2 linked regions of the Homo sapiens genome follow. The main gene of each other region encodes a partner of the protein of the gene in region 2 in a complex. Each region holds a gene or a part of one and is shown on either strand. Other genes may lie near its edges. A codon is read from its position in the direction of its gene.

What was found. The genes of interacting proteins can lie anywhere in the genome.
Region 1: the proteins of CWC22 (region 2) and EIF4A3 are in contact, whole or in part, in a crystal structure (PDB 4C9B), measured with the Homo sapiens proteins. Residues at the interface, in NP_001362958.1 of Homo sapiens: Thr129, Gly130, Gly131, Ala132, Tyr133, Pro135, Pro136, Ala137, Lys138, Arg140, Lys164, Asn167, Gly168, Ile170, Asn171, Lys172, Val173, Asn174, Ser176, Asn177, Ile180, Ile181, Glu184, Ala207, Ser208, Ile210, Phe211, Tyr215, Lys330, Arg331; in NP_055555.1 of Homo sapiens: Met43 (codon at 1,808), Gly44 (codon at 1,805), Ile72, Ile73, Lys74, Gly75, Gln98, Cys99, Met183, Gln213, Val256, Ala257, Glu259, Trp263, Asp266, Thr267, Asp270, Leu271, Tyr272, Asp273, Thr274, Leu275, Thr276, Ile277, Thr278, Gln279, Ala300, Asn301, Phe302, Thr303.

What each region holds. Positions count from the first base shown.
Region 1 is NC_000017.11:80,145,028-80,148,773, forward strand, and holds the start of EIF4A3 (eukaryotic initiation factor 4A-III), read right to left. Parts: upstream 2,102-3,746; 5' UTR 1,935-2,101; coding exon 1,766-1,934; intron 1-1,765. UniProt on the Homo sapiens protein: ATP-dependent RNA helicase. Involved in pre-mRNA splicing as component of the spliceosome. Core component of the splicing-dependent multiprotein exon junction complex (EJC) deposited at splice junctions on mRNAs.
Region 2 is NC_000002.12:179,972,695-179,976,440, reverse strand, and holds part of CWC22 (pre-mRNA-splicing factor CWC22 homolog), read left to right. Parts: intron 1-2,638; coding exon 2,639-2,807; intron 2,808-3,194; coding exon 3,195-3,248; intron 3,249-3,746. UniProt on the Homo sapiens protein: Required for pre-mRNA splicing as component of the spliceosome. As a component of the minor spliceosome, involved in the splicing of U12-type introns in pre-mRNAs. Promotes exon-junction complex (EJC) assembly.

The DNA.
Region 1 (3,746 bases), on a different chromosome or scaffold from region 2:
AAGAAAATGTAGCACAATTTCCCATCTTAACACAAATGCAAATATAGCAGATGATTTAAACTCTTCATGAAGAGCAAGCACATAGATGGGAAACTAACAACAGTGTCTTAGGGCAGGGACTGCCTGAGTGCCAGGAAACCAGGTGGGGCTGTCAGCCTCACTGTGAGGCTGCCTGAGATGCTTTTTCACCACGCATCCTCAGCAACTTCGCTTCACTTTGTCCAAACTGTTGTGGCATCAAGAACTACAGGATACGGCCAGGTGGGGTGGCTCACACCTGTAATGCCATCACTTTGGGAGGCTGAGGCTGGTGGATCACTGAGGTCAGGAGTTCAAGACCAGCCTGGGCAACATGGCAAAATCCCCTCCCTACTAAAAATACAAAAATTAGTAGGACGTGGTGGCCCACACCTATAATCCCAGCTACTCGGGAGGCTGAGGCAAAGGAATCGCTTGAGCCCCAGAAGTGGAAGTTGCAATAAGCTGAGATCATGCCACTACACTCCAGCCTTGGTGACAAGAGCAGGACTGTCAGAAGGAAAAGGAAGAAAGAAAAGGAAGAGAACTACAGGATAAAAAATGTCCCTGTCCCAAGCATTAAACACAGGCCATTTATCCCAGATGCTGGTCATTCCCATCTATGTGCCCAACCCAACCTCTTCTCCAGGCTCTCCCTCAACTTCCTCACATCTTTCAAACATACCAAGAGACAGCTCCTGATTCTGACTCTCTGGAGTGCTGCCTACCTAGCCAAATGTTTGCAGCATCAACCACCGGTTACTCAAAACACTCCAACTCTCCTCCTTCTGTCACTCACGTTCAATCCATCAGCCAATGCTGTCAGCTCCCTGGTACTCCATCTCCAAGGCAGCACAATCCTCTCTTCCCTGAACTGCAGCAAAAGCTCCCAACTCTCTTGTTTCCTCTCCTGCCTTGCCTCGCCTCACCTCAAATCTACAGACACCCAGAAGAATCTTTAAAACTGTAAATGTGATCGTGTCACATAGCTACTTAAAACCTTCCACTGGCTTCCCACTAGATTTCTAAATGAAATTCAAATTATTCGTCACCCTACACGTCTTTGCTAGATCTGCCCCGACTAGCTCTCCAAAATCCCACCACAGGGGACTTCTTTCAGTTCCTGGAATGCAGCTGGCTAAGGGCTGCAAGGCCCTGGCACCAGCTGTTCCTTCTGCCCCAACTGCTCTTCCCTCTTCTCATAACAGTCTCCTTCATCCAGAACTCTGCTCAAATGGCACCCCCTCCTGCGAACCCCCTTACCTCTCTGCTTTACTAATTCTCTCCTCCTTCCCAGTCCCACTCTATTCAATTACCCCGCTTCAGGTTCTTCAGGTTGCCTGGGCAACCTGACAGTATGCTTTCCCCCCAAACGAAATTCAAAACCCGTAAAGGCGCAAACCCTTCCGGTTTACCGCCAAAACCCCAGTACCTAGAAAAGCTAATAGGTAGAAATCAGTTATCTGCTGAATGAAGGACGCTGAGGTGCCTCGAAGCGGCTGCAGCCCCCGACAGACCCAGCGCCGAGCTCTGCACGGGGGACACACACCGAAAGCGCCGACACAGCCAGGCGTGAGGGCGAGGACGGGGGTGGGGGTGGGGGTCGGACGTCACTGGCCCCCGAGCCTCGACCCTGACCACGACCTCCGGAGCGCAGGGCCGGCCCGGGAGTCACCAGTCTGGCCCTCAGCCCCCGGCTCGCCCCCGACTCGCCCCCGGCTGGCCCCCGCGGCCCGCGCCCGCTCACCGTAAGCGTAGATGCCCCGCAGCAGGTCCTCCCGCAGGCCCATGGTGTCGAACGTGGGGGTCACATCCACCTCCTCGCTGGTCTCGAATTCCACTTTAGTCATGTCTTCCTCTTTGAGCAGCCGCTTTCGCGCCGAGCCCGAGGTCGCCATCGTGGCCGTGGTCGCCATGATTCAGAGTCCGCGGAAGAGCACAGCGCGCGCCGCTGCCGACCTCGCTGCCGCTGCCGACCTCGCTGTGCCGCTGCCGACCTCGCTGCCGCTGCCGACCTCGCTGTGCCGCTGCCGACCTCGCTGTGCCGCTGCCGACCTCGCTGTGCCGCTGCCGACCTCGCTGTGCCGCTGCCGAGAACAGACGCCTTAAGTATGCGAAAGCGAGAGACGTGCGTGCGTACGTGCGTACGTGCGTACGCGCGACGCGGCCACGCCTCTGGGGGACGGGGCACTCTTCGTCACGTGAAAGGGAACTGGGCGTTTGCCGCAGGGAAAAGTAAGGTGTTTCTGCTCTCGCGCCATATGCAGTTCCCGCGGGATCTCGTTGAGGGCGGGGCACCCAGTTCCTTACGAAAGGGATGGAGGGGGTGGTACTTCTAAAGTTGGCGGTGTTTCGTACCGGCCGCGGGATTTCGCGGACTGGGGCGCTGAGGTTCTTTGAGCGGCGTGTGGACCTGAATTCCCTGGAAACAGGCTGGGGCCGCGAGGGGCCTCCGCTCCGGGCGGGGTCCCCAGATAGCCCCGCCTCGAATAAAAATGACGAGCACGGGTCCTCTCTCGGGCCCGCAGTGGGTGGACTGCGTCGCAGACCCGTAGTGGAGGCGCCCAGCTCGCCGGGGAGATTCGAGTGGAAACCCTCACGGCCGCCGGTGGTGGGCCCCGGCGCGGCGCTGGGCTCCGGCGGGTCTGCGCTGGGGAGGGCCAGGGCCCCTGAAGCCGGCGTCCCTCTTAGGGGACGCGCCTGGGTGTGTCTTCACCGTTTGCCTGGTGAGTTGGAGACAGGGTCTCGCTCCGTCGCCCAGGCTGGAGTGCAGTGGTAGGATCAGGGTTCATTGTAGCCTCCGCCTCAGCCTCTGGAGTAGCTGGGACCTCAGGCGCGCGCCACCACGCCCGGCTAATTTTTTAAATTTTTTTGTAGAGACGGGGTTGGGGGAGGCGGGGGTTAGGGTTGTCCTGGCTGGTCTTGAACTGCGGGGCCTCAGGTGATCCGCCTGCCTTGGCCTCCCAAAGTGCTGGGATTACAGGCATGAGCCACTGTGCCCGGCAAGCAGCTGTTATAAATAAAATACATGCTGAGCCTGCAATTTGCTCTTAATGAAGGCCACTTGTCAGTAGACGGTGCTGCTAATGCGTGTCCTGCAGCAAAGATAACCCAGACGGGATCATTTTTTAATTGCCCAGCAGAACTTTAACCAGTTGTGCATCTTAACCTGCTTTTTGTTTGTTCGTTTGTTTGTTTTGAGACAGTCTGGCCCTGTCGCCCAGGCTGGAGTGCCATGGCGCGATCTCGGTTCACTGCAGCCTCCACCTCCCGAGCACAGGCGATCCTCCCGCCTCAGCCTCCAGAGCACCTGGGACCACAGGTGTCCACGCGCAGCCACTAACCGCTTTCTTATCTGACACTTTAAGTGCTTCTTCGTACCCAGCTCCTCTAACGCCTTTTGAAGCAGCTCCATCATCTTTGAAGGGCAGTTCATGCTGTTGAGAATCATGTTTTTAACTTTGGGAAAATTGTATTTCCACGAGCGCCAGCTCTGTCCTTTTTTTTTTTTTTTTTTTTTTTTTTTTTTGACGGAGTCTTGCTCGGTTCGCCCAGGCTGGAGTGCAGTGTCGCGATCTCAGCTCACTGCAAGTTCTGTCGCCCAGGTTCACGCCATTCTCCTGCCTCAGCCTCCCAAATAGCTGGGACTACAGACACGCGCCACCACGCCCAGCTAATTTTCTGTATTTTTAGTATAGACCGGGTTTCACCATGTTGGCCAGGATGGT
Region 2 (3,746 bases):
CAGAAGCATTCTAGTTTTATGTAATCCCATTTGTCTCTTTTTGCTTTTGTTGCCTGTGCTTTAGGGGTCATATCCAAAAAATCATTAACCATACCAGTGTCTCAGAGCTTTTCCTTTGTATTTTTCTTTTAGAAACTTATAGTAGTTTCACAGTTTCAGGTCTAATGTTTAAGTCTTTAATCTGTTTTGCGTTGATGTTTGTATATGCTGTGGGACTAAGGTCTATTTTCATTCTTCTGCATCTGGGTATTCTGTTTTCTTGGCACCATTTATTGAAGACACTGTCTTTTCCCTATTGTGTCTTCTTAGCATCTTTGTCGAAAATCAGTTGACTGCCAATGTCTGGATTTATCTCTGGTTTCTTTGTTCTCTGTAGCTCTATGTGTCTGTTTTTATACTATTGTCATTCTGTTTTGATTACTATAACTTTGTAGCAGATTCCAGGTCAGGGAGTGTGATGCCTCCAGCTTTGTTCTTTTTGTTCAAGATTGCTGTGGCTATTTGGAGTTTTTTGTGGTTCCATGTGAGTTTTAGGATTGTTTTTTCTATTTCTGTGAAAAACGTAACTGGAATTTTGATAGGGATTGAGTCCAGTCTGTATGTTGCTTTGGGTACTGTGGACATTTTAACATATTATTTCAGTCCATGGACATGGGATGTCATGCATGTTCTTCCATTTTTTCATCAGCAATTTGTAGTTTTTAGTGTACAGCTCTTTCATCTCCATGGTTAGATTTATTCCTAACTTTTTTTTTCATAGCTATTGTAAATGGGATGTTTTCTTGATTTTTCAGAAAGATAGTTCATTGTAAGCATATGGAAGCACTACTGATTTTTGTATGTTGATTTTGTGTCTGCAGCTTTACTAAATTAGTTTATTAGTTCTAACAATTTTTTGGTTAAGTCTTTAGGGTTTTCTATATTAAGATCCTGTTTACAGCAAACAGGCTTCTCTATTTTTGATTTGGATACCTTTTATTTCTTTCTCTTGCCTAATGGCTCTGGCTAGGACTTCTAGTACTATGTTGAATAGAATTGGAAAGAGTAGGCACCCTTTTCTTATTCCTGATCCTAGAGGAAAAGCTTTCAGCTTGTCACCGTTGAGTATATTAGCTATGGGTTCGTCATATATGGCCTTTATTCCAATTTAATTTCTAGTGAGAGTGAAATGGGAATGTGAGAGAAATGGGAAAGATGAGCAATACATTTTAGAAAAGCAGAAGGGAATCACCGTATTCTATAAGAATATGTGGCTTTAAGCAATTGGTGATATTTAAAAGGGTCAGAAAATAGAATTACTCCATGTTGTATTTATTATTTTAAAATCTGAGGGCTGTTTTCTCATGTCATTTTACATGACTATGATTCATCTTTAAAAAAATATGGAATGTAGTGGCCAGGCACGGTCGCTGTAATCCTAGCCTGTAATCCTAGCACTTTGGGAGCCTGAGGCAAGAGGACCACTTGAGTCCAGGAGTTGCCTGGGCAACATTGTGAAAACCTGTCTCTATGAAAAATACAAAAATTAGCTGGGCGTGGTGGCACACAGTAGTCCCAGCTCCTCCGGAGGCTGAGGTGGGAGGATTGCTTGAGCCCAGGAGGCAGAGCTTCCAGTGAGCCAAGATCGCCCCACTGCACTCCTGCCTGGGTGACAGAGTGAGACCCTGTCTCTCCCCAACCTCTCCAAAAAAGGTGGGGGTATAAAGTAGGAGCAGCAAGTTTTAGAGGTAGAGAAAGTTGATCAAGAGACAGCCATTATCCTCAAAAGTGGGCAGAGATCTCTCCAATTTACTTAGAAAAAAAGTAGACTTAGAAGAGTTATGGATTGCTAAAGATACTATAATTTATAAGCTGCATCCTTTTTCTTATTTTCCACTCTAGTGATTCAGTTGTCATATCTAAAACTACCATTAAGACTTTTTTTCCTGACTTTTGGCAATCCAATAATTACTTGTCATTACATTGCTAAAAGTAACTTTAGTTTGCCCAATTTGCCTTTCCCCTTCCTCATCAAATGCATATAGAAACATGACCATTTTCAAAATGAGTTACAAGTAGGTACCTTTTAATTTCCTGTTACTGTTTTAGCATTAATCTGGCATTGCTTTTAATTCGTTTCTTTATTTCTCACAGGAGTATTCCACATCTTCATTTTATTCTACTAAAATTAGACTTAAAGATTTAAACCCAAATTTGTCTTTAATCACAAAATTAATTTTATAAAAATGACAGATCTGTAGTAGAAACTTTATGTTATCTACCTTTTATACTTTTGAAGCAGGTCTGCTTTTGTTTACTTTTTAAAAAATGTTAAAGAAATTATTTATATGAACCTTTTTAAGGTTCAAATTCATGATTAGATATAACAGACTGGGAAAAGAGGAATTATATGTAGAGAGAAAAATTTTGGTGATAAATTGCAGTAAAATCTTCATTCTATTTTACAAAATCACAAATTCACATTTCGTTTTCTGAAAAACAATTTTTATTTATTAGTAAGACAAACTCTTTCCAGTTAGTTCTGATTTAGATTTTATGATTACTTATAGAGAAATATTACTGAATTTTAATAGTTTTTGTTTCGTTTAATTAATTTGGTGATTATTGTTGACTCCTTTTTAAATTCTTTTTTAAACAGAGGACTGCTGTCCAGGTCTGTTTTGCAAGCACAGAGTGCTTCTCCAATCTTCACCCATGTTTATGCAGCATTAGTGGCAATTATCAACTCAAAATTTCCACAAATTGGAGAATTAATCCTCAAAAGGTTAATTCTTAATTTTCGAAAAGGCTATCGAAGAAATGACAAGGTATATATGAATGGCTTGTAAGTAGAATGATACATAGGAACAAACTAACAAACCAGTATCAACAAAAGTAAGCAAGGTTGATTTTGACACAGCTACATAACATAATGCTTTTTAAAAACTGTCTTTCATGAGAACTTCTTTGATCTGTTAAATATCCCTGGCCACTATTGATGAGCCACAAAAATGATGGCTATAACTGTAGAACTATAACTATTTAACCAGAAGGGATACTCTTTCATGTGTTTTATTTTGTAACTTTCTTATAATGTAAAAATTATACTTGTGTGGTACATGTTTTAAATAGATGATGTTAGTAGGCCATAGATTATGTAAATAAATGAAAATTGGGTTTAGTTTATAGGTTAACTTTCCACCTTTATTTTTCAGCAACTTTGCCTGACTGCTTCAAAATTTGTGGCGCATCTTATTAACCAAAATGTGGTAAGTAATTATCTTCAATACTTGGTCCCATTCAGTGGCATTAGACCAGAGGGTTGATGCCACTTCACTGATACCTCTCTATTTTTGCTTTGCTTTATAGTCCTTGGGATAAAAATGTTGGATGATATTTTCATTTTAAAACTATAATAAATATATTTAATGTTCTTTTTTTTTTTCTTTTTTTGAGATGGAGTCTCACTCTGTCGCCCAGGCTGGAGTGCAGTGGCACAATCTTGGCTCACTGCAAGCTCTGCCTCCTGGGTTCACACCATTCTCCTGCCTCAGCCTCCCGAGTAGCTGGGACTACGGGCACCTGCCACCACGCCCGGCTAGTTTTTTTTGTATTTTTAGTAGAGACGGGGTTTCACCATGTTAGCCAGGATGGTCTCGATCTCCTGAACTCGTGATCCACCAGCCTCGGCCTCCCAAAGTGTTGAGATTACAGGTGTGAGCCACCACGCCTGGCCATATTTAATATTCTTTAATATAACACTTTGA